4 linked regions of the Homo sapiens genome follow. The protein of the gene in region 3 purifies or fractionates together with the protein of the main gene of each other region. This does not show direct contact. Each region holds a gene or a part of one and is shown on either strand. Other genes may lie near its edges.

The links.
Region 1: the proteins of PEX39 (region 3) and PEX7 purify together in Homo sapiens (affinity purification with mass spectrometry; 3 studies listed by BioGRID and IntAct, with this or other methods). This does not show direct contact.
Region 2: the proteins of PEX39 (region 3) and PHYH purify together in Homo sapiens (affinity purification with mass spectrometry; 2 studies listed by BioGRID and IntAct, with this or other methods). This does not show direct contact.
Region 4: the proteins of PEX39 (region 3) and ACAA1 purify together in Homo sapiens (affinity purification with mass spectrometry; 3 studies listed by BioGRID and IntAct, with this or other methods). This does not show direct contact.

What each region holds. Positions count from the first base shown.
Region 1 is NC_000006.12:136,824,936-136,832,951, reverse strand, and holds part of PEX7 (peroxisomal biogenesis factor 7), read right to left. Parts: intron 7,739-8,016; coding exon 7,681-7,738; intron 6,634-7,680; coding exon 6,483-6,633; intron 1-6,482. UniProt on the Homo sapiens protein: Receptor required for the peroxisomal import of proteins containing a C-terminal PTS2-type peroxisomal targeting signal. Specifically binds to cargo proteins containing a PTS2 peroxisomal targeting signal in the cytosol.
Region 2 is NC_000010.11:13,283,065-13,291,080, forward strand, and holds part of PHYH (phytanoyl-CoA dioxygenase, peroxisomal isoform a precursor), read right to left. Parts: intron 5,478-8,016; coding exon 5,296-5,477; intron 776-5,295; coding exon 626-775; intron 1-625. UniProt on the Homo sapiens protein: Catalyzes the 2-hydroxylation of not only racemic phytanoyl-CoA and the isomers of 3-methylhexadecanoyl-CoA, but also a variety of other mono-branched 3-methylacyl-CoA esters (with a chain length of at least seven carbon atoms) and straight-chain acyl-CoA esters (with a chain length longer than four carbon atoms).
Region 3 is NC_000006.12:42,889,382-42,895,735, forward strand, and holds PEX39 (peroxisomal biogenesis factor 39), read right to left. Parts: upstream 1,441-6,354; 5' UTR 1,408-1,440; coding exon 1,102-1,407; 3' UTR 884-1,101; downstream 1-883. UniProt on the Homo sapiens protein: May be a peroxin involved in the PTS2-mediated protein import pathway.
Region 4 is NC_000003.12:38,126,539-38,134,554, forward strand, and holds part of ACAA1 (3-ketoacyl-CoA thiolase, peroxisomal), read right to left. Parts: intron 7,472-8,016; coding exon 7,414-7,471; intron 7,354-7,413; exon of another isoform or gene 6,953-7,353; intron 5,468-6,952; coding exon 5,388-5,467; intron 5,101-5,387; coding exon 5,058-5,100; intron 2,851-5,057; coding exon 2,752-2,850; intron 1,329-2,751; coding exon 1,248-1,328; intron 163-1,247; coding exon 1-162. UniProt on the Homo sapiens protein: Responsible for the thiolytic cleavage of straight chain 3-keto fatty acyl-CoAs (3-oxoacyl-CoAs). Plays an important role in fatty acid peroxisomal beta-oxidation. Catalyzes the cleavage of short, medium, long, and very long straight chain 3-oxoacyl-CoAs.

The sequences.
Region 1 (8,016 bases), about 94 Mb from region 3:
GAAGATGTGGGAAAGTTTGGAAATTCTTAAAGACTTCTTAAATGGTTCTGAACAAAATGCTAATAGTGATATGAACAATGAAGTTCAGGCTGAGGTGGTCTCAAATAGAGATGACGAACTTACTGGGAACTGGAGTAAAGGTCATTCATGCAATGCTTTAGCAAAGAGACTGGTGGCATTTTGCCCCTGCCCTAGAGATCCGTGGAAGCTTGAATTTGAGAGAGATGATTTAGAGTGTCTGGTGAAAGAGATTTCTAAGCACCAAAGCATTCAAGAAGTGACCCGGTTGTTTCTAAAAGTGTATAGTCACATGCATTCATGAAGAGATTATTTGAATTTGGAACTTATATTTAAAAGGGAAGCACAGCATAAAAGTTCAGAAAATTTGCAACCTAACCATGAGGTAGAAAAGAAAAACCTATTTCTTGGGGGGAAATTCAAACCTGCTGCAGAAATTTGTATAAGTAACAAGGAGCCAAATATTAATAGCCAAAACAATGGGAAAAATGTATCCAAGGCATGTCAGAGACATTTGCAGAAGCCCCTCCCATCACAGGCCCAGCGGCCTAGGAGGGAAAAATGGTTTTGTGGGCCTGAGTGGCCCTGCTGCTCTGTGCAGCCTCAAGACATGGTGCCCTGCATCCAGCTGCTCTAGCTCCAGCCATGGCTAAAAGGAGCCAAGGTACAGCTCAAGCCATTGCTTCTGAGGGTGCAAGCCCTAAACCTTGGCAGCTTCCATGTGGTGTTGGGTCTGTGGGTACACAGAAGACAAGAAGAGTTTAGAAGACAAGAGTTTAACCTCCACCTAAATTTCAGAGGATGTATGGAAACACCTGAATGTCCAGGCAGAAGTCTGCTGCAAGGGAGGAGCCCTCATGGAGAACCTTTGCTAGGGCAGTACAGAAGGAAAATGTGGGGTTGAAGGCCCCACACAGTCCCCACTGGGGCACTGCCTACTGGAGTTGTGAGGAGAGAGCCACTGTCCCCCAGGCCCCAGAAAGGTAGATTCACTGACAGCTTGTATTGTACAGCTGGAAAAGCCACAGGCACTCAATGCCAGCCAGTGAAAGCAGCCATAAGGACTGCACCTTTCAGAGCTACAAGGGTAGAGCTGCCCAAGGCCATGGGAGCCTACCCCTTGGATGTGAGATATGGAGTCAAAGGAGATCATTTCAGAGCTTTAAGATTTAGTAACTGCACTGCTGGGTTTCAGACTTGCATGGGGCCTGTGGCCCCTTTGTTTTGGCCAATTTCTCCCATTTGAAACATTTAGCTAATGCCTATAGCCCTACTGTATCTTAGAAGTAACTAACTTGTTTTTTATTTTATAGGCTCATAGGCAAAAGGGACTTGCCTTGTCTCAGATGAGACTTTGGACTTGGACTTTTGGGTTAATGCTGGAATAAGTTAAGACTTTGGGGGACTGTTGGAAAGTCATGATTGGTTTTGAAATGTGAAAAAGACATGAAATTTGGGAGGCGCCAGGAGTGGAATGATATGGTTTGGCTTTATATCCCCACCCAAATCTCATCTTGAATTGTAATCCCCATGTGTCCAGGGAGGAACCCGGTAGGAAGTGATCGGATCATGGGGGCAGTTTCCCCCATGCTGTTCTTGTGATAGTGAGGGAGTTCTCAAAAGATCTGATGGCTTTAAAAGTGGCAGTTTCCCCTGCTTTCTCTCTCTCTCTTTCTCTCTCTCCTGCTGCCTTGTGAAGAAGGTTATCTACTTCCCCTTCACCTTCTGCCATAATTTTAAGTTTCCTGAGGCCTCCCCAGTCATGTGGAACTGTGAGTCAATTAAACCTCTTTCCTTTATAAATTACCCACTCTCAGGTATTTCTTTATAACAATGTGAAAACAGACTAATACAATACCTATCATTATTGACTTCTCAGCTTCTATCATTATCAAAAAGTAAATAATTGATTCATTTTTTAAAGTAAACAAGATTTTAACTCTTGAAATGTATAAGCAAATACATTTCCTCCATAACAGAATACTAATAGTTGTATACTTAGGTCAAAAATAAGTTTTTATAAGCAATGCTCAAAAACCTCAATGGATCAAATATGTTATAAAAATTCAGCAAATTGATAAACCTTGTTATTTGACTATGAGAACAAATTTTAACTCATTTTTAAATTGTGATAAGCCAACTCATTAGTCTGAAAATTAGAAATTAATATATTACATTGATTTATGTCATCTTTAAAGTCACTTTAACTCACTCTCAGTAGCACAGTGTTTTAAGTCAGAAAGCAGTGAAATAAAATTGTCAATTCACTCTTATTTTTCTATTCTCACTGAACTTTTAAAAATTTTTATTATATATTCAGCAGCATTAGAATAAGCAAAGCCAAAGGCATTTTATGGGACTCAAAAGACATAATGACCTCTGCAGACACCAGTTAAACAATAGACAGAAGAATTTGATTCCTACTTCGATGCTAGGTTTAGCAACCATTCACACAGATAATGTCCATGTTTTTCTTTCTTTTCATTTCACCAAGACCTTCACTCCTCAAAGCCTAAAATATATCTAAATCTTGGATTTCTCTTTTTTGCTTCATCTGACAACTTGAAAATTGACTGTTGGACACATAGCCATCAAGTGGTAAAGTGGGTAACTGGAAAAGTTCTAACTTGTTTTACATTTTTCAAACCCTATTATAATAAGAGCAAATAATAATACTAGCTCATATTTATTCAATGCTGGTCTGTGATACAGACTACTAATAAACTTAGTTTGCAAATAAAAACACTCAAGTTTAGGAAAAATATGTGACATACGCAAGGTCTCACAACAGGTAACTTACAAAGCTGGGATTCAAATCCAAGATTGACTAAAACCATGCTATACGTCTTTATTATATACTCTCTTCCACAGAAGAAAATGACCCATTAGTTGCTCTTCTATTTCACAACACAGCTTCCCTGAACATACTGGTGGAAAAAAAAAAAACAGAAATTGGCTATGTTCATTATCAACTTTTTTTTTTAATAACTTTCTTTTAAGACAGGGTCTCACTCTGTTGTCCAGGCTGGAGTGCAATGGCACGAACTCAGCTCACTGCAACCTCCACCTCCCATGCTCAAATGATTCTTGTGCCTCAGCCACCAAATAGCTGGGACTACAGGTGTGCACCACCACACCCAGCTAATTTTTTTATTTTTAGTAGAGGCGGGGTTTTCGCCATGTTGGCCAGGCTGGTCCCAAACTCCTGGCCTTCAGTGATCTGCCCACCTCGACCTTCCAAAGTGTTAGGATTACAGGCATGACTCACTGCACTCAGCCTCATTTATTAATTTATTCAACAAATATTTACTAGCTCCTTAAAACTCTCATTTGAGCTTAAATCCTTTTAAGTATTTTTGAGTATCTGGCATATGCAATGGACTGAATATATCCCCACAAAACCCACATGTTGAAATCTTAACCCCCCAGTGTAATGGTTTTAGGACGTAGGGCCTCTGGGGGGTAATTAGGTCATGAATGTAGAGCCCTCATGAATGGGATTAGTGCTCTTATAAAAGGGATTTCCCAAACCTCTCTCATTCTCTTTCCACCACCTGCAGATACAATGAAAAGACAGCAGTAGTCTTTGACCTAAAAGAGGGCCCTCATCAGAACCCAAACATGTGGGCACCCTGACCTTGGACTTCCAACCTCCAGAATAGTAAGAAATAAATTTCTGTTCTTTATAAGGCACCCAGTCTATAATACTTTGTTACAGCAGCCTGAACAGACTGAGGCAGAAACTGGTGCCAAGAATTAGGGGTGCTGCTGTAACAAATACCTAAAAAGGTTATCTTCATTTATTTTTCACATAACCAAGCAAAATATGTGAAACAGTAAACTCTGACTGTTGAAGCCATTTAATTGTTTTCTATTACACTAACATTCAAGGCATCCTGATACAAACGCTTACCAAAAAGTGCATTTGAAAAGAAAACGAGGAAGTCTAACTAGAATAGCAGTACGCAAAACAAATTTAAAAAATTAAAAAACAGAAGTGTGTCTTCGGTTCAAGAAATCAGCTGCAAAATCACAGAATGATGTAAAACTGGTTTAATAGCAGTTCAAATAACAAAAGAGGTAAGTGTGTTACTAGCAGACTCAAAGTAACCTAACACTAAGACATGGCTGAGAACAATGTATAGCCACTTTAGGTAATATTATTAGAGCTAGGGGCTCAAGACTATGGTGGTAAAATCTTATAAAGCTTAGCCCTTCATCACATTTCTGGAATAAATTAGGTATATGTTGAAAGGGGAGTTGAAAAACAGGATTATCAAAGGAGGCTATCAGAAGGATGAAAGACGTACAGATCATGTCATCTGAGGACAGGACAATGAAATGACAAGTGCACAGTCTGGAAGAGAGCACGATGGCTATTTTCAAGAGGTTTCCTGGACAAGAGGGGCTGGACCTGGTCTTGCCACTTCAGAGAAAGACACTAAAAGCAGCAGTTGGTTGCTATAGAAGGTAGAGTTGGGATTACAAGAAGCAGTTTCTTAATAATCAGAACAACCTAAAAGTCAAATAAGTTATCTCAAGAGAAAGTGAAATTTACTTTCACTGACAGGAAGTAAAGACTGAGTGAGCATCCATCCAGGATATCCTAGAACAGTATTTTCCAGAGAGTAGTTACACCAGAGATTATTTTAACTGGTACATACATTTATTTTATTCATTACTTACTTATCTCAATGTACACTAAAAACAAATAAATGTACATACTAAAGTAGCCATCAACCCCATTGTTTCATGAATATTACTGTTTTAGGATAAATGAAGCAACGACTTTACTTGATTGAAAGAAAAACATTAAGTCAATATATTGAATTTACCTTAACTAGCTATATTATTTTATGATGTCAGTTATCATCCTTGAATTTATATAGATAATAAAAGGCACCAAAGATTTAAGAAAAAGGAAAAAAAAAACTTCTGAAAAGAAAAATATTTTTTAAAAAAGAAAGAAGGAAAAGAAATACATTATAATACAAGTGGTATAAAAAGATGTCAAACATCACAAAAACTAGCCTGGGCAACATAGCGAAACTCCATCTCTACAAAAAAAAACAACAACAAAAAAACACACACACACAAAAATTGGCTGGGCACGGTGGCTCACGCCTATAATCCCAGCACTTTGGGAGGCCAAGGCAGGTGGATCATGTGAGCCCAGGAGTTCAAGACCAGCCTAGCCAACATGGTGAAACCCGTCTCTACTAAAAATACAAAAATTAGCAGGGCACGGTGGCGCACGTCTGTAATCCCAGCTACTCGGGTGGCTAAGACATGAGAATGGCTTGAGCCCATTCCAGAAGGTGGAGGTTGCAGTAAGCCAAGATTGCACCACTGCACTCTAGCCTGGGCAACAGAGTGAGACCCTGACACACACACACACACACACACACACACACACACACACACACACAAATTCACACAGGTTCCACAAAAGTATCTGAATTTTGGACATACTGTTCTGTAGAGATTCGTGCATTGATTATCCTGAAACTAAAATTTCTCCTTTACCAAAATTGTCTTAATATTCAGTAATTCCCTGAAAACATAGTAATTTACAACTACATTTATTCAAATAGCTATCATAATTAAAATAGAAACTAAAATTTTTCATTATTTCAGTAACAATCTTAGAAATCTTGATTGTCAATAGCTACAGCTATAAAACATCTGGACCCCTCACATAACTAATCTTTACCACAAAAGACTGATATTCTTGCATCTAATAAGCATTTATTGAGGGCCTTCTCGGGCCAGGCACTGTGGTGGACAAAAATTTGAAAGTAGATTAGCAAGTTTTCATCTGAAGGATGTACTGCTCCCTTAAGGAAAATCTTAAAACATTTAAGGTAAAAACACAAAAAGAGGATGTCTTTATGTTCACTGAAAATATACATGTATGTTAGTACAACTGAAGCCCAAACTATTTTCTATGCTATACATACACACACACAAAATCTAGACACATGAACCAGATTTAGATATAAAATCCCTTCAGTAAGTTCTGCCTCATACTCAGTATTTTATGCTCTTGCTCCAATATACTCTGAAACACCTCGGGAATCTCACTGAAGCCCCAAAGGCAATCTTGTGATGTCTATGTGAAAAGTCCACCTACCTCTACCTTAAGGCACCATGTGGCAAGCACATTCTTAGAGCACAAAGAAAGTGATGGGCCTCTCAGGAGGAAATGGTGCCAGAGTACACTGCTGGAGGTGTTCTTTCTGCCTAATGAGAAGACTGACCTTTTCTTTTCTTTCCCCACTCCTTAGGCCAAGAGGTACTTTATGTTTGAATAATCAAATAATAAGTGACATCTAGTATGTATAAGAAATGCTAACGTTTAAACTTGTCCCCTGAAGATATTTCTCCATGTGTCCATCCCCAAATGGATTTCAACCAAAGTCGAAGAAAGAAAAATAATCAGCCCAGAAAGATTTCCCTCCTACCTCCTGAGCGTGTTCTTTATAGACTTGCAGTGGCCCTGCAGCTTTGGCAGTGTCCCAGAGCTGCAGCGAGCCATCGCCACTACAGGTGATGAGGACATGTTCGTTGTTCTCACTCCAAGTCACATCAAACAAACCATCATTCCAGTCAAAGCTACACTAGGAAAAAACAAACAACAAAAAAATACAACACTTACATAGGCAGCTACACAACAAAAAAAATAACAATTATGGTTTTTTTTCTTTCAATTTATCACACATTTTAACACGTATATCTCATGTAATCTGCACAACTACGGGAGTTAAGTAGAGTAGGTACTTGACAAATATGGCAACAGATTCAGAAAGGTTAAAAAAAACAGTCCAGTGGAATGTAGTAGTCCAAAAATGTAATAGTACACAGTATACTGCTCCACATTTTTTTATGTTTAAATTTTATAATTTATGAGTGGACACTAAGAGACAGGCTTCAGATTTGTTTTGTTTTTTATTTGAGAGAAAGAGTCTTGTTCTGTCATCCAGGCTGGAGTGTAGTGGCCCAATCACAGCTCACTACAGCCTTGAACTGGACTCAAGCAATCCTCCCACCTCAGCTTCCCAAGTAGCTGGGACTACGGCCTAAAAATTAAAAAAATTTTTAGGCTGGGCCCAGTGGCTCACGCATATAATACCCACTTTGGGAGGCCAAGGTGGGCAGATCACCTGAGGTCAGGAGTTTGAGACCAGCCTGGCCAAAATGATGAAACCCCATCTCTACTAAAAAATACAAAAATTAGCCGGGTGTGGTGGCGGGCACCTATAATCCCAGCTACTTGGGAGGCTGAGGCAGGAGAATCACTTGAACCCAGGAGGGGAAGACTGCACTGAGCCAAGATGGCGCCACTGTACTCCAGCCTGGGTGACAGAGCCAGACTCTGTGCATAAAAAAAAAAAATTTCTTTTAGAGACGGGGTCCTCCTATGTTGCCCACGAGGCTGGTCTTGAACTCCCGGCCTCAAGTGATCCTTCTGCCTCAGACTTGGGAATAGCTGGGACTACAGGTGCGCACCACCACAATCAGCTAAAAATAAGCTTCATCCTATGCAAACGCCAAGGTTCCTTTTATACTGTATATTAAAACATTAATCAAAGAGTCAAAACCTAATTCTATTAAGGCTTTAATAGCAACAATATATACCTTTAATAATTTCAGCCCCCTTACCTTCTAAAAAGCCTTAGCCCAGCTTCATCTGGATCCAATATTAGTAGGGTTCCACAGCCTAAAGAGAAAAAAAATCAAGGTCATCCCTTTGAACCTGCCAGGGTAACATCGAAAGTCAAGGAGTTATCAAGTAATTGATACCTGATTTTAATACCACAAATTTTTCCCCAAAGTATTTGGGACCTTGAATACCAAATGGTCAGGTGATCAATTTCTCCCTAAAGTTTTTGGGACATGAATACCAAATGTGTTCTCTATTTCTGTTTTTCCATATTGTACTTCAGTTACTAAATATTCAACTTCCCATTGCACCTATGATTGGAATTCAGACATGGA
Region 2 (8,016 bases), on a different chromosome or scaffold from region 3:
CCCGCCTCAGCCTCCGGAAGTGCTGGAATTACAGGCATGAGCCACTGCACCTGGCTTTCATAATCAATTTTTTTTTTTTTTTTTGAGACGGAGTCTCGCTGTCGCCCAGGCTGGAGTGCAGTGGCGCGATCTCGGCTCACTGCAGACTCCACCCCCTGGGGTTCACGCCATTCTCCTGCCTCAGCCTCCCGAGTAGCTGGGACTACAGGCGCCCGCCACCTCGCCCAGCTAATTTTTTGTATTTTTAGTAGAGATGGGGTTTCACTGTGTTAGCCAGGATAGTCTCGATCTCCTGACCTCGTGATCCACCCGCCTTGGCCTCCCAAAGTGCTGGGATTATAGGCATGAGCCACCGCGCCCGGCCCATAATCAATATTGACAAGGTTAGGATCCTGAGGTCACCTGGCTTCTTACTGATAAGAGCACAGAAAGCCCAAGGTAAGCAAATATATTTCCTGGTAAATAAACTGGACTAAAGTCCAGGTTGGTTAAAAGCCACAAATCTTTAAAATGTTAATGCAATTTAATTAAAATTTTATTCAATTAATTTGAATTCAATGAATTGAATACAATTTTTGTTTCTAACCCACACTTCTGCAGCAGGTGCAGCAATGTGAATGCTTACCTTCCGGAATCCCTGGGTTTTATTCTGACCAGATCCGTGGATGAGCAAAGGATGGAAGAAAACAGTGTCGCCCTTCTCCATCACCAGGTGCACCCGGGCCTTGTTTTCCTCGTAGTCCTGGATCCCGTGGAACATTTTGTTAACTCCCCCCTAGAACAAGAGGCAAGTGAAGTCTACATTTGAGGGAGTACCATAATTAAAAACATTGTCAATGGTTCATCAGGGAAAGCAAACATCAGGGAAAGAAAGCATTTCTCTCTCCCAAGAGAAATAAATGTCTAAATTAAATGCTTACATTTTTTTCAGTATACAAAAGCCTCTCAGATATCTGGTTTTTAAGAGTCACATTTTGGCCGGGCATGGTGGTTCATGCCTGTAATCCCATCTCTTTGGGAGGCCAAGTTGGGAGAATTGCTTATGCTCAGGAGTTTGAGATCAGCCTGGGCAACATGGCAAAACCCCATCTCTACAAAAACTGCAAAAATTAGCTGGGCGTGGTGGTGCCAGCCTGTGGTCCCAGCTACTCAGGAGGCTGAGGTGGGAGGATCGATTGAGCCGGGAGGGGGAGGTTCCAGTGAGCCATGATCACACCACTGCCCTCCAGCCTGGACAACAGAGCAAGACTCTGTCTCGAAAAATAATGGTAATAAAAAAAAAGAAGTCACATGTTGATATTAAAATCACTGATTTTTTGGAGGAAATGAACAGTGTGGAATTTCCACCTGCCCTTCATGACTGCATTATACATGAAGATCTAGCTTAGCTTTGCCTTTTGTGGTTAATGCAGGCAACCACCTATCTCTTGGGCATTTCCAGCCTGAAACTGTGAGTGTTCCCAGTGTGTTCTCCTCCTCGCCCAGAACTTTAAATAAATCCTTCATCTCTTACTCAGGAGTGTCTCTGAGAAGCTATTTCCCCAAAATAGGGGGGAGAAAATGCTCAATTTTTCTGAGCTCAAAGGCACTTATGTTACATCCAGAATAATGAAAGAATAGTAAATTAAAACACTGTGTTTGTTTGTAACTATTTCCCAAATTAGTTGCTACTTTAGGTAATGCGGTTATGTCTTTATTAAAGAAATTGACATGAGAAGCACCTTAGGAGTCAGGGTAAGGGAAGCAGCCCATTCCTCTTCCTAAGAGCATCCCCAGTTCCTTCTGGGAATGACGACATCCCTCTTAGACAGTGCTGAGACTCTGACCCAGAGCCCTTCTCTCCTGGCCAGGGTGAATGTGTGACCCACACTAAGCTAATCATACCTCCCACTCTGCATCTGAGCAGGGTATCTGAGACTCCACACGCTCTGGAAGCCCTGCAAACTTTTCCCTTTGCCTTCTGTCAGCCAAAGCCCACTGCAGTTGCATGCACCAAACTTTAAACCTTGGCTTCACTGATGAGTTTCACATTAAATGGTTTTATATCAGGATCCAGACACTCACATATTTTCATTTGACACTAATTATTGGTGCAAGAAATCTGAGACGTTCTATTATTATTATTATTGTTATTACTGAGATGGAGTCTTGCTCTGTCGCCCAGGCTGGAGTGCAGTGGTGCGATCTCAGCTCACTGCAACCTCCATCTCCCAGGTTCAGGCAATTCTCCTACCTCAGCCTCCCGAATAGCTGGGAGTACAGGCACACACCACCATGCCTGGCTAATTTTTGTATTTTTAGTAGAAATAGGGCTTCACTATCTTGGCCATGCTGGTCTCAAACTCCTGACCTCAAGTGATCCACCCGCCACGGCCTCCCAAAGTGTTAAGATTATAGGCGTGAGCCACTGTGTCCAGACGAGTTAGGAGTTCCTAAAACCATGTTCCTCATTTCCTATCGAACTACAACTCATTCTCCCTGCTTTAACAATGGGGGCTCTTTCCATTCGCAGCATCATGGGATTCCAGGATCTTTTCTTTTCTTTTTTTTTTTTTTTTGAGATGGAGTCTTGCTTTGTTGCCCAGGCTGGAATGCAGTGGCGCGATCTCAGCTCACTGCAAACTCCACCTCCTGGGTTCAAGCTATTCTCCTGCCTCAGCCTCCTGAGTAGCTGGGACTACAGGCGCACGCCACCACACCAGGCTGATTTTGTATTTTTAGTAGAGACAGGGTTGCTCCATGTTGGTCAGGCTGGTCTCGAACTCCTGACCTCAAGTGATCCGCCCACCTCAGCCTCCCTAAGTGCTAGGATTACAGGCATGAGCCACTGCGCCCAGCCCAGGATCTTTTCTTTTTCTTTTGATACGGGAACTTGCTCTGTCACCCAGGCTGGAGTGCAGTGGCACCAACATAGCCCACTGCAGCCTCGAATTCCTGGGCTCAAGTAATCCTCCTGCCTCAGCCTCTGGAATAGCTGGGACTACATGCATGCGCCACCATGCCCAGCTAATTATTATTATTATTATTTTTAGAAATGAGACCTCACCGTGTTGCCCAGGCTGGTCCTGAACTCCTGGGCTCAAGCGATCCTCCCACTTTGGCTCCCACAGGGTCTTTTCACCTTAGACCTAACGCGTTAATAGTCATCTCTCTGGTTTCTTTGCTTCTAGATGCCTATACCTCTAACGCGTCCTGCACCAGAACGTGACATTACTGTCCTTGAAGAGCCGATTTGATCCCATCACTCATGAGCTCAAATGCATTTAACATTTCCAAGCATCAGCAGCTGAATGGATGAACAAACCATGGTTCACGGTGCAGCCATGCAATGGAATACTACTCAGCAAGGGAAGGGAAAGAACTACTGTTGGCCAGGCGCGGTGAGCCCAGCACTTTGGGAGGCCGAGGCAGGCAGATCACGAAGTCAGGAGATCGAGACCATCCTGGCCAACATAGTGAAAACTCGTCTCTACTAAAAATATAAAAATTAGCTGAGCATGGTGGCTTGTGCCTGTAGTCCCAGCTACTCGGGAGGCTGAGGCAGGAAAATTGCTGGAACAAGGGAGTCGGAGGTTGCAGTGAGCCAAGATCGTGCCACTGCACTCCAGCCTGGTGACAGAGTGAGACTCTGTCTCAAAAAAAAAAAAAAAAACAACAAAAAACTACTATCATACACAACAGCATCAATGAACCTCAAAATCACTACACTGAGTGAAGGAAGCCAGAACGGGACAAAAAAATCTATACTATGTGATTACATGTCTATGACATTTTAGAAAATGCAAACTAACCTGCAGTAACAGAAAGCAGCTCAGTGGTTGCCTAGAGCAGGGAGAAGGATGGAGTATCTTGATTGTGGTGATGATTTCACAGGTATGTGTGTGTGGAAAATGATCAAATTATACATGCAAAATATGTACAATTTACATGACAATTATACCTCAATGAAACTGTTTATTTGTTTAATTGTTTGTTTTTTAATTAAAAGCTCTTCAGCCAGGTGTGGTGGCTCACGCCTGTAATCCTAGCACTTTGGGAGGCAGAGGTGGGCGGATCACGAGTTAAAGAGATCAGGACCATCCTGGCCAACATAGTGAAATCCCGTCTCTACTAAAAATACAAAAATTAGCTGGGTGTGGTGGTGCGCGCCTATAATCCCAGCTACTCGGGAGTCTGAGGCAGGAGAATCACCTGAACCCAGGAGGCAGAGGTTGCAGTGAGCCGAGAACGTGCCATTACACTCTAGCCTGGTGACAGAGTGAGACTCCTCAAAAACAAAACAAAACAAAACACAACAAAAAAACAAAAAGGGTCTTCGATCTTCCTAAAAGTTTGAACTAAAAAGTTCCCATTCTTCCCCCAAATAAACTGCAGACTTGTTAGTAAAACAGTCTTTTCTAATCTGGTCCTAATGTACATTTTTGGGCTCACCTCCTCTGCTGCTCCCCAAAATACACCCCCAGCGCCCAGCCCATCTAGACTGCAAGCTCCCTGGGTCTTTCCTGTTCTTTGGTCAAGTTCAGGCTTGCCCTTGACCTTGTGCCTTCCTATATCGACTCTTCCCTATGGGACATTGTACACTGTCCTGCAAGGCTCAGGTCAGACACCAGCCTCCCCAGATCCTTTGCTGGTCTCTGCAGTTGCAAGGAGACAATCTCTCCTTCCTTACTCTGAGAGCCATCAGTTAGTGAGTAAGACTGACTTGGTGTCTACCACACACATCTGGGGTCGAAGGGTTTATGTCTTACCTCTGCAGCTAGGACTTACAATCTCGGATCCTATACAGTACCTACCCAAGCTCCCCACCTTGGCTGGCTTTCAAACACGTGTTAAGGGCAGGTACAGTGGCTCATGCCTTTAATCCCAGCACTTAGGGAGGCCGAGGTGAACAGATCACCTGAGGTCAGGAGTTCAAGACCAGCCTGGCCAACATGGCAAAACCCTGTCTTTACTAAAACCACAAAAATTAGCCGGGCGTGGTGGTGCACACCCGTAGTCCCAGCTACTAGGGCGACTGAGGCGGGAGGATGGCTTGAACCTGGGAGTTGGAGGTTGCAGTGAGTTGAGCAAGACCCTGTCTCAAAAACAAACAAACAAAAAAAGTGTTGAAAATAGGTGTGATGAATGTTTTCTCTGACATCCTTGAACTTTCTCTGATCCTCACTGCAAATCTTAGGACAATGTTTTGCTCAGAAAGGAAATGCCATCTCATTTGTAAACTCTTTAGAGGTACTGATGTGAAACAGAAACTGCGAAGGAGATTCGGATCAAGACTCAGCCGCCGGGCAGACCTACCTCCCACTTGGGGTAATCGTGGGGCTTCAGGGAGCCCTTGTGTGTGCCTGGGAGCACAACCAGACAGCCGTTGTTCCGGCTGATGTGCTCCATCGCCGTCCAGGCGCAAACGATGAGATCGCTGGGCCTGAAGGGGAAATAGTGCAGGTCCTGGTGCAGGGGGTGACGGGACGTCTTCTTGCCTGAAAAGAAAACCTGCTACTAAAGGATACTCGAGGCCGAGTGCAGTGGCTCACGCCTGTAACCCCAGCACTTTGGGATATAAAAATATATCCCAAAGTGGGAGGCTGAGGCAGATGGATGGCTTGAGCCTGGGAGTTCAAAACCATCCCGGGAAACACAGTGAGACTCCGTTTCTACAGAAAACAAAACAACAAAACAAAACAAAACAACAAAAACAACTAGCCGGGTGTGGTGGCATGCACCTGTAGTCACAGCTACTTGGGAGGCTGAGGTGGGAGGATCACCTGAGCCTGGAGGTCGAGGCTGCAGTGAGCTATGATTGCACTGCTGCATTACAGCCTGGGTGACAGAGAGCGAGTCCCTGTCCCCCACCCCCAACCAAAAAAAAAAAAAAAAAAAAAAAAAAGCTGGTCTCAGAATTCTTATCCTTTGCCTGAAAAAACAATGACCTGTCCCCAGAAGAACCAAACAAATGAAATAATGCTAGAGAAAATCAGCCCCGGAGAGATAAACACCAAATTGGAAATCAACACACTGGCTCCACATCTTCAAATCCCGCACTCCCTTCTTCCGGGTTGCTGGTAGCTAAGTACTTATGCACACTATTTTCCAGCAAGCGGTATAACATCCTCATCTCTGTTGTGCTTTATTCTTTGTTGTTATTGTTTTTTGAGACGGAGTCTTGTTCTGCTGCCCAGGCTGGAGTGCAGTGACGCGATCTCGGCTCACTGCAAGCTCCGCCTCCCAGGTTCACGCCATTCTCCTGCCTCAGCCTCCCGAGTAGCTGGGACTACAGGCGCCCGCCACCACGCCCGGCTAATTTTTTGTATTTTTAGTAGAGACGGGGTTTCACTGTGTTAGCCAGGATGGTCTTGATCTCCTGACCTCGTGATCCGCCCGCCTCGGCCTCCCAAAGTGCTGGGATTCCAGGCGTGAGCCACCACGCCCGGCCTTGTGCTTTATTCTTTTGTGACCCTGGATTGGGCACAGTACCTAGCATGCAGTAATGCATGTTCAAAAACCAGTTGCATTAATTACATTGAAGAGAGTGATATGGAGTCAAGTTTGAAATCCCCTTTGAAGTGGCTGATGTCAAAAAAAGTTCTAAGCCACGTGTAGTGGCTCACACCTGTAATCCCAGCACCTTGGGAGGCTGAGGCAGGCAGCTCTCTTGAGGTCAGGAATTTGAGACCAGCCTGGCCAACATGATGAAACCTCGTCTCTACAAAAATACAAAAATTAACTGGGCATGGTGGTGCACACCAGTACTCCCAGCTACTTGGAAGGCTGAGGGCTGAGGCAGGAGAATCGCTTGAACCCAGGAGGCAGCAGGTTGCAGTGAGTCAAGATCGCACCACTGCACTCCAGCCTAGGCGACAGAGTGAGACTCTGTCTCAAAAAAAAAAAAAAAAGAAAAGAAAAAGAAAAAAAAACACACAAAACAGGACGGGCACGGTGGCTCACGCCGGTAATCCCAGCACTTTGGGAGGCTGAGCCGGGTAGATTGCCTGAGGTCAGGAGTTCGAGACCAGCCTGACCAACATGGTGAAACCCTGTCTCTACTAAAAATACCAAAAAAAAAAAAAAAAAAAAAAAAAAAAAATTAGCTGGGTGTGGTGGTGGGCACCTGTAATCCCAGCTATTCAGGAGGATGAGGCAGGAGAATCACTCAAACCCCAGAGGCAGAGGTTGCAGTAAGCCGAGATTGAGCCACTGCACTCCAGCCTGGGCAACAGAGCAAGACTCCATTTCAAAAAAAATAAAAATAAAAAAAGTTATCTAAGAGGTCCTCACCCCCCACAACTATAGTCATTCCATGTCCAGTCGGAGTGCCCATGACCACACTGACATTTTCCCCTGGTTTGCTCCCTGAGTGTGGCTCCCGAACACCTGCTCTCCTCAAGGAGGGAGAGACCTGGTAATGCTAAGCTGCCTTCTATCACATAAACCCCTCCTGCAGATCAGAAGGAAGAAAAGGCAGAAAGGATAGGGGGACTCTCTCATGGCTGATTTTTACTGCAGGCACAGAGGAATTTCCCAGTGTAGTCCAAGTGATCTGCACTACAATCTCTGGACTTGAACTCCTGGGCTCCAGCGATCCTCCCCCCGCAGCCTCCTGAGTAGTTGGGACCACAGGTGCACATCCACGCCCAGCTTGAGGAAGGTTATTAAAATACAGAAACCTGGGTTATATTTCTCAATCAGTCTGTCTGCCAATGAGGTCTTAGATTCTACATTTTAGCAAGCACAAGACATTTTAAAGACAACTATAGGCTGGGCGCGGTGGCTCACACCTGTAATCCCAGCACTTTGGGAGGCCAAGGCAGGTGGATCATCTGAAGTCAGGAGTTCGAGACCAGCCTGACCAACATGGCGAAACCCTGTCTCTACTAAAAGTACAAAAATTAGCCAGGCTTGGTGGCACATGCCTGTAATCCCAGTTACTTGGGAGACTGAGGCAGGAGAATCAGGAATTGTTTGAACCTGGGAGGTGGGGGTTGCAGTGAGCCAAGATCGCGCTATCGCACTCCAGCCTGG
Region 3 (6,354 bases):
AGTGAGCCGAGATCACACCATTGCACTCCACCTTGGGCAACAAAAGCAAAACTCTGTCTCAAAAAAAAAAAAAAAAAAAGTGCCAGCGTATGAGGTAATTAGATTGGTTCTCTCCAGAGGTAACCTGCCAAGAAGAGATGCTATAGATGTTACTCCTATACTGTAAAACATTGTGAAATCAGATTACTTTAAAATGATGTATTACAAAGTTATGCAAAAAAGCAGTTGTGACTATGGAAGCCCAAGGCTTATATCCCAGCTCTGTCTTACACTAAATATGGGTACAGTGTTTCCACTCTGTCCATAAAATGGGAGCTAATATTCTCCAACCTGTGTGCCTGACATGATGGTTAAAGGGATTAAACAAAACAATAGTTTGTAATTTATTCTGTCAGAGCAAACTGCTGGTAAATAAAAGGGACTAAGTTGACGAAAAATAAATTTTAAAAAACCTAATAAAACAAGTTTGTAATTTATAATTGTATACAAATAAAAGATGTTACAAAAATTGCGCACTTATATGTATGTACCATGACATAACTAATTCGTTGAACAAGTTGTGAGACAATCCTTTCTGAGAAAAGGTAGACCTGTTACATCGTCTGTGGGTTAGGGTCATGTCAGCACGTACCAGGTACATTCTAGCTTTTGTAGAGAAAGTAAAATCTAGTGTTGAGTATGTAGGCACTGAGCCAGGTGGCCTGCTTAACATAAAAGGACTGATTTCAGGGTGGCTGTGGGAGCCTTTCTAATGCTCTAATTCTCTAGCCCCTTGCCTGATCCAGCTGATTCCAAGAGCCAAGATTTTAGTCTTTCTTGGTTGGCTTTTTTAAATGCTTTGGGCTTTCCTTTAATGTATCTTCAAAATCATTCTGGGGCCAAGTTACATCATAAAACATTTTATTACATATAAGGACTGAAACAGGATTTTTCTTAACTGTAACATGGTCCACAAATGTAAATGCAAAACCCCCATGGTGGTTGCAGGAGCAAGTCTAGTTGAGACAGGTCAGGACGAAAGCATAAAAGATGAGTAACTGAATGGCATCCCGGGTCCTGTAGCCACGCCCTCCAGATCGCCGCCGCAAAGGACCTGGAACCTCAGGGGCCCACTGTATGCCATGAAGAAGGCGCAGTCGCTGCCTCAACCAAGCCAGGCTCCGCCGGGGCCGTTCCTATCCTGAGGGTCGGAGGGGGAAGGGACTCAGCCAAAGCCGCGGCCTCCCAGGGCTTGGGCCTCCGCGGCAGCCGGGACGCTGTGGGTTCGCCGTGGATCGCCGCGATGTGGCGTTTCTCCAGGCCCGGGAGTTCCTGGCCCTGCTGGACCAGCTGCAGGAGCTGCGCCAGGGTAACCGAAGCTGAGGCAGAGGCCGGGGCCGAGCATTGGGGACTGCGGGGACGCTCCATGTCGGGTCGCGAATCCTGACCGGCGTGTAATGCAGAGAAGCGAGCACTTCCGGGCCGAATGGGTGCAACCACCATGGGGGAGGTGGGGAAAGGAAAGGGAGGCTGTAGACCGTACCAAGCCGGCCCAGAACTGGGGGAGCACTTGACAACTCTGACCAGCTCCCTGCAGAAACGCTTTAGAAGCGTCCACGATTTAGCCAAACCCAGAGTGCCCAACGGACGCGCCAAAGAAGAAAAACGGACGGACGTGCCAAAACTTGAAGGCTAGCACAGGACAGAACAAGCCTGCGGACGCGCCGCTGCGGGCAAAAAGACCCATACATACATAAGCACCGCGCACATGCCCATTTTCATGCACACCCCCGGGCGCGCGTACAAGGATTCAGATACAACGCATGGCGGGGGATAATCCCCATACTAGGCTCCGCAGCACGGGACAAAGCATAACTGTAGAGTTGTTCCCAGAGGCCTCAGGAGTGACACCGCCACCAAGCCACGCTACTCTCTTAGTTGTTATTATTGTTTTGTGTTGTTTTAGACGGAGTCTCACTCTGTTGCCCAGGCCGGAGTGCAGCGATGCGATCTCAGCGCACTGCAACCTCCGCCTCCTGGTTCAAGCGATCCACAGGGTCCCTAGTGCCTCAGCCTCCCTAGTAGCTGGTGTATGCCACCAAGCCCAGCTAATTTTTGTATTTTTAGTAGAAACAGGGTTTCACCATGTTGGCTAGGCTAGTCTCGAACTCCTGACCTTAAGTGATGCACCCGCCTCAGCTTTCCAAAGTGCGGGGATTACAGGTGTGAGCCACCGCACCCAGCCAGAGCCTCACCACTTTCTTCACACTTCCTGCCATCCTTCAATTCTTGGTGGTCCCAGAGAAGATCGAAGGTGAAAGCAGGTCAGATGTGCTACAGCTGCTCTGACTGCTCGGAAAGTCAGGTTTTTAAATTATCAAAAGTGGCCGGGCACGGTGGCTCACACTTGTAATCCCAGCACTTTGGGAGGTGGAGGCAGGTGGATCTCAAGGTCAGGAGTTTGAGACCAGCCTGACCAACATGGGGCAACCCCCGTCTCTACTAAAAATACAAAAATTAGCTGGGTGTGGTGGCATGCACCTGTAATCCCAGCTACTCAGGAGGCTGAGGCAGGAGAATCGCTTGAACCTGGGAGGCAGAAGTTGCAGTGAGCTGAGATTGCAGCACTGCACTCTACCCTCGGTGACACAGCAAAACTCTGTCTCAAAAAAAAAAAAAAAAAGTATCAAAAGCTAGACTGATCTGGTGAACATCACCTTAATCAAAGAATCAAAGCTTAATGGCCAGGCGTGGTGGCTCACACCTGTAATCCCAGCACTTTGGGAGGCTGAGGTGGGCAGGTCACCTGAGATCAGGAGTTTGAGACCAGCCTGGCCAACATGGCGAAACCCCATCTCTACTAAAAATACAAAAAAATTAGCCAGGCATAGTGGTGCGCACCTGTAATCCCACCTACTTGGGAGGCTGAGGCAGAAGAATTGCTTGAACCTAGGAGGCAGGGAGGTTGCAGTGAGATGAGATCACACCACTGCACTCCAGCCTGGGCAACAGAGTGAGACTCAGTCTCAAAAAAAAAAAAAAAAAAAAAGCTTAATAGGACAAACTGGCCTTGTGTGCCTTCTGATGTGATGCACTGGGAAGGACACACACACGGGGAGTACATTTCTGTAGTAGTCCTCCCCAAAATGCCCAAAAAATGTTCACTCACCACCTAGTCTTGAGGAAATAGAGATCAAAGTGAGAGAGATTCTGCAAAATGATTGGTCTGGACACTTTACAGATGTCGTTGTTATAAAACATTAAGAAAAAGCTAAGAACTACCCCAGATTAAAGGAGACATAAAAAATAAATACAGGCCAGACACAGTGGCTCATGCCTTTAATCCCAGCACTTTGGGAGGCTGAGGTCGGTGGATTGCTTGAACTCAGGAATTCAAGACCAGCCTGGGCAATATAGCAAAACCCCATCTCTACTAAAAAATACAAAAAAAAAAAATTGCTGAACATGGTGGTGGACACCTGTAGTCCCAGCTATTCTGGAGGCAGTGGTCGAAGAATCGCTTGAACCCGGGTAGGTGGAGGTTGCACTGAGCTGTGATTGCCAGCAACTTCCGACTGGGAGACAGAGTGAAACTCTGTCTCCAAAAATAAAATAAAATATAAATAAATAAATAAATTCAATGAGTGATCCTGGATTAGATGCAAGATTGTGTAGGGGAGATCAGCTCTAAAGGACATTTTACCCTTGGGGAAATTTGAATATGATCCATATATTAGATGACAACGATATATCAATGTTAAATTTATCAAGTGTGATAATTGTGGTTATGTGTGGGAATTACCTTGTTCATAGCAAATACATTCTGAAGTATGTAGAGGTGAAGTGTCATGATGACAGAAAGAAAGCAAATGTGGCAAAATTGCTAAGAATTAGTGAATCCACGTGAGGGTTTGAAACTTGTCAAAATAAAAAGTTGGGGTAGGCCCGGTGCAGTGGCTCACGCCTATAATCCCAGCACTTTGGGAGTGGTCAAGGCAGGAGGATCACTTGAACCCAGGAGTTCAAGACTAACCTGGGCAACATAGTGAGACCCCCTCCAAAAACAAAAATTGGCTGGATGTGGTGGCACACACCAGTAGTTCCAGCTACTTGGAAGGCTGAGGCTGGAGTATCACTTGAGCTCAGGAGGTTGAGGCTGCAGTGAGCCAAGATTGTTCCACTGCACTCTAGCCTGAGCAACAGAGACTCTGTTAAAAAAAAAAAAATTGGGGTAGGGGGCACTTGGTAAGAGCTTGAGAAGCCAGTCTGGAGGAAACTGACCATATTGAATGTTGTATAATAAAGAATTTTGAAGGGGTGGCCTGCCCCTCCACACCTGCGGGTATTTCTCGTCAGGTGGGACGAGGGACTAAAAAAAGAAATAAGACACAGAGACAAAGTATAGAGAAAGAACACTGGGCCCAGGAGACCAGCGCTCAGCGTACGGAGGACCTGCACTGGCCCCAGTCTCTGAGTTCCCTCAGCATTTACTGATTATTATTTTCACTGTCTCAGCAAGGGGAATGCAGCAGGAGAACAGGGTGATAGCGGGGAGAAGGTCAGCAAGAAAACATGTGAGCAAAGGAATCTGTGTCACAAATAAGTTCAAGGGAAGGTACTATGCCTGGATGTGCACATAGGCCAGATATATGCTTCTCTCCACCCAAACATCTCAGTGTAGTAAAGAATAACACAGCAGTATTGCCACCAGCATATCTCGCCTCCAGCCACAGGGCGGTTTTCTCCTATCTCAGAATAGAACGAATGTACAATCGGGTATTATACTGAGACATTCCGTTCTCAGGGGCATGCAGGAGACAGAGGCCTTCCTCTTATCTCAACCGCAAGAGGCCTTCCTCTTTTACTAATCCTCCTCAGCACAGACCCTTCACGGGTGTCGGGCTGGGGGATGGTCAGGTCTTTCCCGTCCCACGAGGCCATACCTCAGGCTGTCTCAGTGGGGAGAAACCTTGGACAATACCTGGCTTTCCTGGGCAGAGGTCCCTGTGGCTTTCTGCAGTGCATTGTGCCCCTGGTTAATCGAGAATGGAGAATGGCGATGACTTTTACCAAGCATACTGCCTGTAAACATTTTGTTAACAAGGCACATCCTGCACAGCCCTAGATCCCTTAAACCTTGATTCCATACAACACATATTTCCGTGAGCACAAGGTTGGGGCTAAAGTTACATATTAACAGCATCTCAAGGCAAAACAATTGTTCAGGGTACAGATCAAAATGGAGTTTCTTATGTCTTCCTTTTCTATGTAGACACAGTAACAGTCGGATCTCTCTTTTCCCTACATATCCCCCTTTTTGACAAAACTGCCATCGTCGTTATGGCCCGTTCTTGCTGGTCGCTGTCTCTTCGGAGCTGGTGGATACACCTGTGGACTAACAACAGACAGAACAGGCATACAAGGATTAATATGAAATTTACAATAGTGGAACTTCTGATGGTTTTTAACCAAGTGACAGTGTTAAGATTTGTGAGGCCATCAGTAGCTTTCACGATTGCCTCAGTTCCCAAATTTAAATGGGCTTTCGATGCCTCAAAATTTTGTTATTTTAATTTTGAAATATCTAAAGTAAGATTATCTTCTCTTCCCTGTAGATGGCATCTAACCATGTCCCAGTGATGCTCAGACTCATTATAGGCTTGGGGTGTAATACAAAAATCTGACATATTCCAGTCACACTGTAACTGAAAAAGATATTCCAAGCTCATGAGCCTATTTCCCAGCCAAATGACAGTTTGTCTAAGATCATTAATTTCGTTTGCCAATTTTTGATTTATTTGGGTCTGAGAATTCCACAATTTTGAGGAATTCTTTCGCCAATCATTTACATATTCTGCAGTTTGAACAGAGGAGTGTAAAGCAATTCCAGCAGCTGCAGCAGTAGCTGTGACTGCAATAAGGCCCATAATCACTGCAATCAAAGTAAAAATCTTTTGGATCTAGTTAGAATTCCTTTTAATACTTCCGTTAAAATATGGAAGATGGCGAAGCCTCCCACTGTCGGTCCATGGACACAGGGATCCGCACACCTTCTCTTGCCCTCACTAGCAGAATATGGCGCTGCCAATTAAAAGTCAAATCAATGCAAGTAAACAATCTACAGTTTTCACAGGTTATAGTTTGGGAATCTGGTTTAATAACTATGTTTTCTATAACTAGCATATAAGGGGGTTTTACACAACTTTGTAAAGGAATTGTCAGATTGGAATTTAGGTTGATAGTATAATATGGCTTACGATTTCTTGTTTCTGTAGCTTGATTTCCAGACCAAATTCTAATGTAGTGCGAGGCCACAGTAAGCTTCCATAATTTTGGATGTTTAGGACCAGTAACAGGACTAACTAACTTTGGTCG
Region 4 (8,016 bases), on a different chromosome or scaffold from region 3:
GCAGGCTTCAGTTTGGCCAGGCCCTCCATGGTGGTGCTGGGGCGGATACCCTCATCCTGGGTCACAGTGATGCTCCTCTTGGTGCCCTTGTCATCATGGACCGTGGTGGTCACAGGCACAATCTCAGCTTGGAAACAGCCCTTGCTCTGGGCTCTTGCTGCCCTGCCAGCACCATGGACAGCCAGCTTCAGACTCCCTTGGGGTTCCCTTCCTCCCTGCCCCCAACCCCTATCCATTTGGGTAGACACAAGCTCAGGCTGCTAAATTCAGGGACATGCTCGACTTTGGGGGAGCTCTGAGGGCATGGCTAAGGCCTTACAGGGCCTTCTTCACCATCAGCCCCAGACCTCCAGATCGTGGCCAATCCCAACCTCAAAGGGGGGAAAGGGTGTTTGGAAGTGGTGCCTCCACTTAGAGCCCTTTGTCCAAGAGGGATTAAGCCTGCTTGATTCTCTCTGCTAAACTGAGGATGGAACCCCAGAAATATCTGTGCTGGGTTCTGCTAACTTTTCTGCTCAAACTCAACAGTTCGATGTCATCTATTCCCCAGTTTCCGCCTATTTAAAGTGACATATACTAAACTACTCATGTATTTTTGTATTTAAGCAATTTTAAAGCACAAGGTATTTAAGGGTGACCCTTGCAAATATGTGCAGCATGTAAGTGCCCAGGGACATTCAAGTGGAAGGAATCTAAGGCTTCTAACACATTTTCAAATGGTTATGTGACCCAAAGTGGCTAAGAATCACTGCCTCAGGGAAGCCCACCTGGCCCAGATACCACTCCCTGCTTTTGCTTTCCTCTCTGGACAGCCGGGACTTGCCAATCTTAGCCTGCCTGAGCCCCTGGGGTTTCTCTGATATCGTCCTCAGTTCTTGCCTCAGGATGCTGCCACAGACCCAGCATGGTCCAGAAGCTAGGATGCCAGAGTCCCTAACATTGCTGGCCCCACACTCCAGGCTACAATGTCCAGTCCCCAAACCGCAGCCAGAAAATAACAGAGGGGGAAACTGAGGCCTAGCTAGGGCAAAGTCAGGGTGAACAGACAGTAATAGAACCTGGAAGTACTACCAACTCACAGTGGCCCTGACACTTCCTACTTCCCACCCCCAACCTGGGTGGCACAAGGCCTGGAAAGCACTCACTGCCCAGCAGTAACCACGAAATGGTGCCACTTCAGACCACTTAGATAGACTCAAAACCTCACTCTCCAGCCCTTTAAACATTCCTCCCCAATCAGCACTCACTTCTGCTGGGAAGCCAGGGCAAAGGTATCCTGCTTCTCCCGTGAAATGCCAAACCGCTCAGCCACATTCTCAGAGGTTATCCTAGAACACAAACAGCAGATAGTGTGGGCATTGGTCTGACAGCCTAGAGGAAGGGACCAGGCTGTAGAGCTGTGCTTGGAACTTTGGGTTCCCAAGGCTGTAGGCAGGACAGGATGTAAGGGCCAGTCCATGCCACAGACAGTAGTGATGACTCAGGATATGGTACAGCCTGCCCTGAAAGTGGATATAAAGGCACAGATAGGGAAGTCAGCAATGCTGGCCAGATCCTGAGAAGCTCATACACCAAAGAGACTTTCTTCAAGAGAGGGCAGCCTGCATGGGGGCAGTTGCAGAAAGGAGTTTGTTCCCTGGGTGAGCTGCCTCAGCGCAGGGTAGAAAAGGAGCAGGGGAGGGCCTGGGTGGGGGCACTAGTTGGCTACTCCTGGCCAGCTTCTCCTATGCCTCAAGGAAGACTGCTGCAATGTAGGGAGATGAGGACTCCCAAATCTCCTCTGGAAAGGCCAAACCTAAGCTTCCTGGTCACCTTGGCTGGGGTCTATGCTTATCCTGAGAACCTAGAGCCACAGCTAGGCCTTCCAGCCTGGGCTTCTGGCTTTATAGGCTTCCCTTGGAGATACAGTATGTGAAAGAAGCCATGGCACTGCCCCTCTCCAAGCCTCAGTCTCCTCATATGTCTAGTGGATCCAGGACTCCTGGCCCAAAGACCCTGGGGATGGCCCAGAGGCTCAGAGAAGCTAAAGTGTTCCATACAAATGCCACATACTTTTCTTTTTTTCTTTTTTGAGACAGAGTCTCCCTCTGTCACCCAGGCTGGAGTGCAGTGGCACGATCTCAGCTCACTGCAACCTCTGCCTCCTGGGTTCATGCCATTTTCCTGCCTCAGCCTCCCAAGTAGCTGGGACTACAGGCGCTCACCACCGCGCCCGGCTAATTTTTTGTATTTTCAGTAGAGACAGGGTTTCACTGTGTTAGCCAGGATGGTCTCGATCTCCTGACCTTGTGATCCACCCATCTCGGCCTCCCAAAGTGCTGGGATTACAGGCATGAGCCATCGCACCCGGCCAAATGCCACATACTTTTCTTGTTGCACCTGACAGGGCCCAATTCCCCTCACCAGCATGTTCTGTCGTCACAAGCTTCCCACTGCCTTCTCAACTTTCTAGGCCCCCAAGGCTTTGGAGTGGAGCTACCATTGTCCTTCCTATGACTGAGCACCTCAGTGTGGGAGTGACAAGGTGGGCGATGTTTGGAAACTCGGGGGCACAGAGAGGACCTGGGGCCTTCAGGAAATGGAAGTCAAGGGCAACATCAAGTCTCATCCCCAAAGTCCCTGCGGAGCAGACCATGCCCAAAGGAAGGAGGCCAAGGCTTGGCACCACCAGCCACAGAGATGATAAAAGTTCCTTGGCTCCCTGCCCCAGGCAGAGAGGGCACAAGCACACAGAGCTATGGGAGCACTCACCCCATAGGAATCAGGCAATCTCTGGCCTTCTCCTTCTCCATCAAGCGCGAAGTAATATTTCCAGGGTTCCCTCTGTCAGCCAGGGACATGGACTCCACCCTGGGGAGGAGGAAGAGGAGGAGAAGGTAAGGTGAACTGGGCCCTAGCAGGACTCCTCCAGAGATAGCTGAACACTTGGCAAGTGCTAGGAAATAGCCAGGGAGCCCTAGGAAGACCAGTGGGCCTCTGGGAGTCACAGGCAGGGCACTTGGCCAGCAAGGCCCAGCCACGAGTACTGAGCCCTGTCTCTATTTCGACCCCCACCCCAGGACAGAGCACTGCACAATAAACACTCCTGGGGGCAGGGCTATGCTTCCCTATACACTGCTAAATCAGCCAACTGGCAATTCCAGAGAAAAGCCTTCTGCTGTCAGCCACAGAGGAGGAAACACATCCACAAGCCAGGGCCTGCCCTCAGGGCCCACAAATTCAGAAGGGAGAAGAGACAATTTGAAAGTAACCACAGGCCGGCTGTGGTGGCTCACGCCTGTAATCCCAGCACTTTGGGAGGCCAAGGCGGGCAGATCATGAGGCTAACATGGTGAAACCCCGCCTCTACTAAAAATACAAAACATTAGCCGGGCATGGTGGCAGGCGCCAGGGTGGGAGGCTGAGGCAGGAGAATGGCGTAAACCCAGGAGGCGGAACTTGCAGTGAGATGAGATCGTGTCACTGCACTCCAGCCTGGGCGACAGAGCGAGACTCTGTCTCAAAAACATAAATAAATAAAATAAAAATAAAAGTAACCACAAAGCTGAGCTCAAAGGGCATTCAGACCTGCATAGACAAGGAAGTGCTACGAGCTGAGAGGAAGGAGACGGCAGTGTAGTGTGGTCAAAAAAGGGCTTTGAGGCCATGGGGGACCCTAACACCTCAAGGGATGATAACAGATAACCTTGACTGAGTGCTTTTCACGTGCCCAGCACTATTCTGAATTCTTTTGAGATATTAGAGTGCTTCAGTGTCAGTCACATGACAGACAAATACTCCACAGTGTAAACTGTTGCTATTACTCCATTTATTCTTCTCAACTTCAACAGAGCTGAGCTAGGTATCCCCATTTTATAGATCAGGAGACTGAGGTCTAGAGAGACTGTATAACTTATCCATGGTGACCCAGCCTGGATCCACATTTAGGTAGTCTGGTCCCAGAGCCCACTTCCAACTAGAGTGCCCTGTGTTAAATACTTGCTGATCAAAGTCTATGGAGAACAGTCAGCCTGTGATGTGGGTGTCAGGCCTGGCCCAGATCTTAATATCCTAGTACCATCATCCTTAACCTGCTTGGGAATCAGATACTCTCTAAGAAACTCATAAAAGCTCCAGCCCTTCTCAAGTTATCCATGCCACCTCTCACCCAGTAAGATAGAAGAGCATGAGAGAAATCAAACGGCAGTGGCCTTTGCCCAGCCAAAGTCCTTGCAGAGTGGTCTTTGGCTTTATTTACAACTGTAGACATAGGTCATTACAACTCAGTGACAGCTGCCACAGCCCTGGGACAGGGGCCAGCAATGCGTCCTCTCAAGAAATACCCTAAAGAGGATGTGAAAGGCAGCGGAGGCATGTCAGAACCCTGGGGCTGCTCACCTCCCCCAGCCTGCCAAAGACCTTACTCCCCTGCCCTCCCAGCACCAGATGCCCACCCAAGCCTGGGCACCTGTGCCCTGACCTTCCCTGGAGGCACTGCCAAATACAACTTCTGCAGCTCCATTTGCTGCAGCCAATGATGGAGCCACAGTCTAGGTGAAGGTGACAGTGACCAAACCACCACAGATCTAATTATGTCCCTCATAGCCCATAAGCAGCTGGAAGTTTCCACACTGGTTCCAAGGTGGGGAGACAAAGGGACAGACAGCCTAGTAAAATGAACAAACTAGTTATACAGTAGGCGCTGTCCCTGGCTTTAGGGAACCCAAACTGCAACTTCTCTCTCAGCAGCATCATGAATCAACAAGGGCCCCCAAAGGAAACCCAAATGCTGGATTTTCTCAAAATGTTTTCCCACCTTTTCCAGCCTGAAAGATTTCCAAGAAAGTAAGCTTTTAGAGGCCAATTCCCCTCCCCTGCTAGTGCTGAGAGGTGTGAGTGATTCCTGAGCAGCCAGAGTTGGTAGCCACTCTTAACCTGCATTTGTGAGAACCCACTCGTGGCCAGCTGCCTAAAGGGGATGGGGGGAATCCTGAAATCATGGCCTCTGAGAACTCAGATGAAAATTAGTTTTATTGTCACAAGTTGGTTAATAAGCTCCGGCAGAAAAAAATTCTTACCCACAGGCCATGCCAATGTCATAAGACCCATTTCTGATGCCACCTGTAACAAAAGCATTTCATAAACATCCTTTGCCAGAGTCCACCTGTTCTGGAAGCAGTGGAGCCTCTTCCCCACCTGGTCTCTAGATGGGACTCAGCCCCAGCCTCAGAAATGGAAGACCCAGGAGTGTTCAGAAAAGGCTTTGGGCAGTGGTAGGGGGCGCTCCTGCACTCTTTCTGTGGTTAGAGTCCTCAGAAATGGTAATTATTGCTTGCCCGGCAGACAGCGACTTTGCTGACCCAAACCCACAGGTCCAGGACCAAGGCACCCACCCAGTCATAACTTACCTGCTATGCTGGCCACTGCCTGTAGCCCCGACGAACACTGTCTATTGACAGTGGACAAAGGCACAGTCTCCGGGATGTCACTGAAACAGAAGGTGAGAAAGTAGAATCAGCCCCCAATTCCATGCCAGGCTCTCATGGAAAGCAGTCCTATGCTTCTAACTGCCCCCCTCAAGGGATGTAAAGGGCAGGGGAACAAACCCAGCAGCTCTGCTCCCATGCCAGGCCAGATCCATGGAATGGGGGTGAGCAGCTACTGGGCAGACCCCATCTCTGCAGGCACTTGCTCCCCAGGGCCCCACAAGCACATTCCCTTCTACTCCTATGAGAATCTTCAATCAAAGACCAAGCACAGCCCAAAGGCAAGGGAAGCCTGTTTGGGCCACAGGGATCCTTCTCTCTCTCTCCCTTTGAAGATTCAGAAATGAAAACTGTGTATCTCTGTTTCCCCCAAAAAACAGAGAAAAGGAACTGCTGCTGGGACAGAGCACCAGAGCAAAAGAAATGCCTAAAGTCTGAGGCCAGGGACCACTCGGCCTTACCAGTAATCATATAGCTAACCCTGCATGTTCCCATGGACTCTTGAAAGCCTGATCCCACCTAGACGAAGCACTCTGATGGGCATCATATATTCTAACATCCATTGCTCTGGTAGGTTCCCCAAGACTCTCATACTGGTCTTAGCCCTGGAAGCTAGTAGGGCTTCCCCTCCTGATGTAACCTGCCTTGGCCAACAGTACAAAGCCCTAGGGAAATTTCCAGACCTCCTCAGACCCACAGACTCAGAATCTGAGGGAGTGGAAGCATCCTGGTGATTCTGGTGTGTAGCCAGAGTTGGGAACCTCTGAACTAGTGCCCAGGCCAGGCTCTGCAGAGACTCTCTCAGGGGGATAGCCTCCTGTGCAGCCTGTTTGACCCTTCCAGGGTCCCTTAACTCCCTAGCAGGTAGTTACCATTCCTTCACTCAATCCACCAAGTGTTCACTAAATACCTACTTACCACAAGGCATCACCTGAGGGATGCTGCGATGCTTATAACACTGTGCCCTAGAGGATGCCCAACCAACACACAGAAAATGAATCAACTATCAGAGACTGAAATAATAGGGCAAGAGGGCAAACCACATCACAAGGAAGTATATGGCTACTGCTGGAGAGGAAGGGGCTCTCAATTTCAGCCTGAGAGCCTGGATAACTCATGCCAAAATGGTGAGACTGTGTTTAGGCAGGGTTTGTCTTTCTGTCTAGGGCAGAAAGAGGAGGTAGGGCTAGCACTTCAAGGAGACAGAATGACCATATCAGGGAAGACAGTAGGCCCACAGCCGGCTGAACGAAGAAAAGTCAAGGTGAGTAAGCAGCTAGGAGATGAGGCTGGAAGGTAAGTCTGGAGCCAGATTGTAGGGGGCCTTGAACTACAGGCTGGGCAGTCTAAACCTCTCCCAGTTCCTAGAGGGTTGTTTTCCTGTTCCTTCACTAGCTAATGTTCCTATTTATTTATTTATGCATCTAGAAGTACAAAGCCAAGCAGTTCTTAAATCTACACATGAAAATAATTTAAGCACTCTTTACCCTGCAGGCGCTTAAAGGAAAGTTGACCAGGTCTCCTCCTGAGGGTCCTCCTTCCCCATGGTTCTGCCCTATCCCAAAGTCTCTGCTAGTGGGATATGACTGGAGTTCTCAGCTCAACTAGTAAAAAGGCTGAAAGTCACTTTTCAGCATTCTTACTTGATTACTCACCTGACAAATGAGGACAGAGTCCACACTCACAAAAGGCAAATGACAACCTGGCTTTGGCTAAAAATCAAGCTACAGAGAACTTCTGCTCCAGTCCCAAAGGTTTTGTGTATCGTGGCTCAGCACTTCAAAGTAGGGGAGAGGTTGAGTCCACAAGAGCAGGGAGCCAAGGACTCTCGTTGCCTCATTCTGGTGTCCAACCTTATCCTCCCCAACCTGCACACTGAGTTTCCTGGGGCCTGGGCCCAGTAAAGTGTCAAAATGGCCAACCCATGGCTAGAACTAGAAAAGTTTACCTCAGAAACTGGGCGATTCGGGCCATGATTGCCCCGGCCCCAGGCTGCAGCACATTTCCTGTGGACAACAAACTTTCATTCAGTGCCAGGCGGTGGTGTTCTGGGCACTAAAGTATAGCTGTGAAAACCAGAGATGAGGCATTCCAGATCTTTCTTCGGGACACTAGCCCTTGGCAGGCTCACTTGCAACTCTGGAACATCAGGGTTTGGGGCAGGGAGAGCCAGCCATACAACAGCTTGTCCTGGTCATCCACCAGCTCCTGTCCCTGAGGGTCCCACGCTCACTTGCCCATGCACCCAGCTTTTCCAAATCAGCACAGATGGGCAGGTTGTCTGCCCTTAAAAGTGAAATGGGAGTTTCTGAAAATGCACATCTCCCCAGGTATCCTCCTGTGAGCCCTGCTGTCACCCCAGAGAGGTGGAACAGTGATTGCCGACCTAGGGGTGGCATCCGCTGGATAAGACTCTTGCCATATCATATTGCTGTATTTCAAGGTGAGGGGTGGAATAGAGGGCTGGACTGAAGATTGTGGGGAAAAGAAAGATCAGATTGTTACCGTGTGTATGTAGAAAAGGAAGACATAAGAAACTCCATGTTGATCT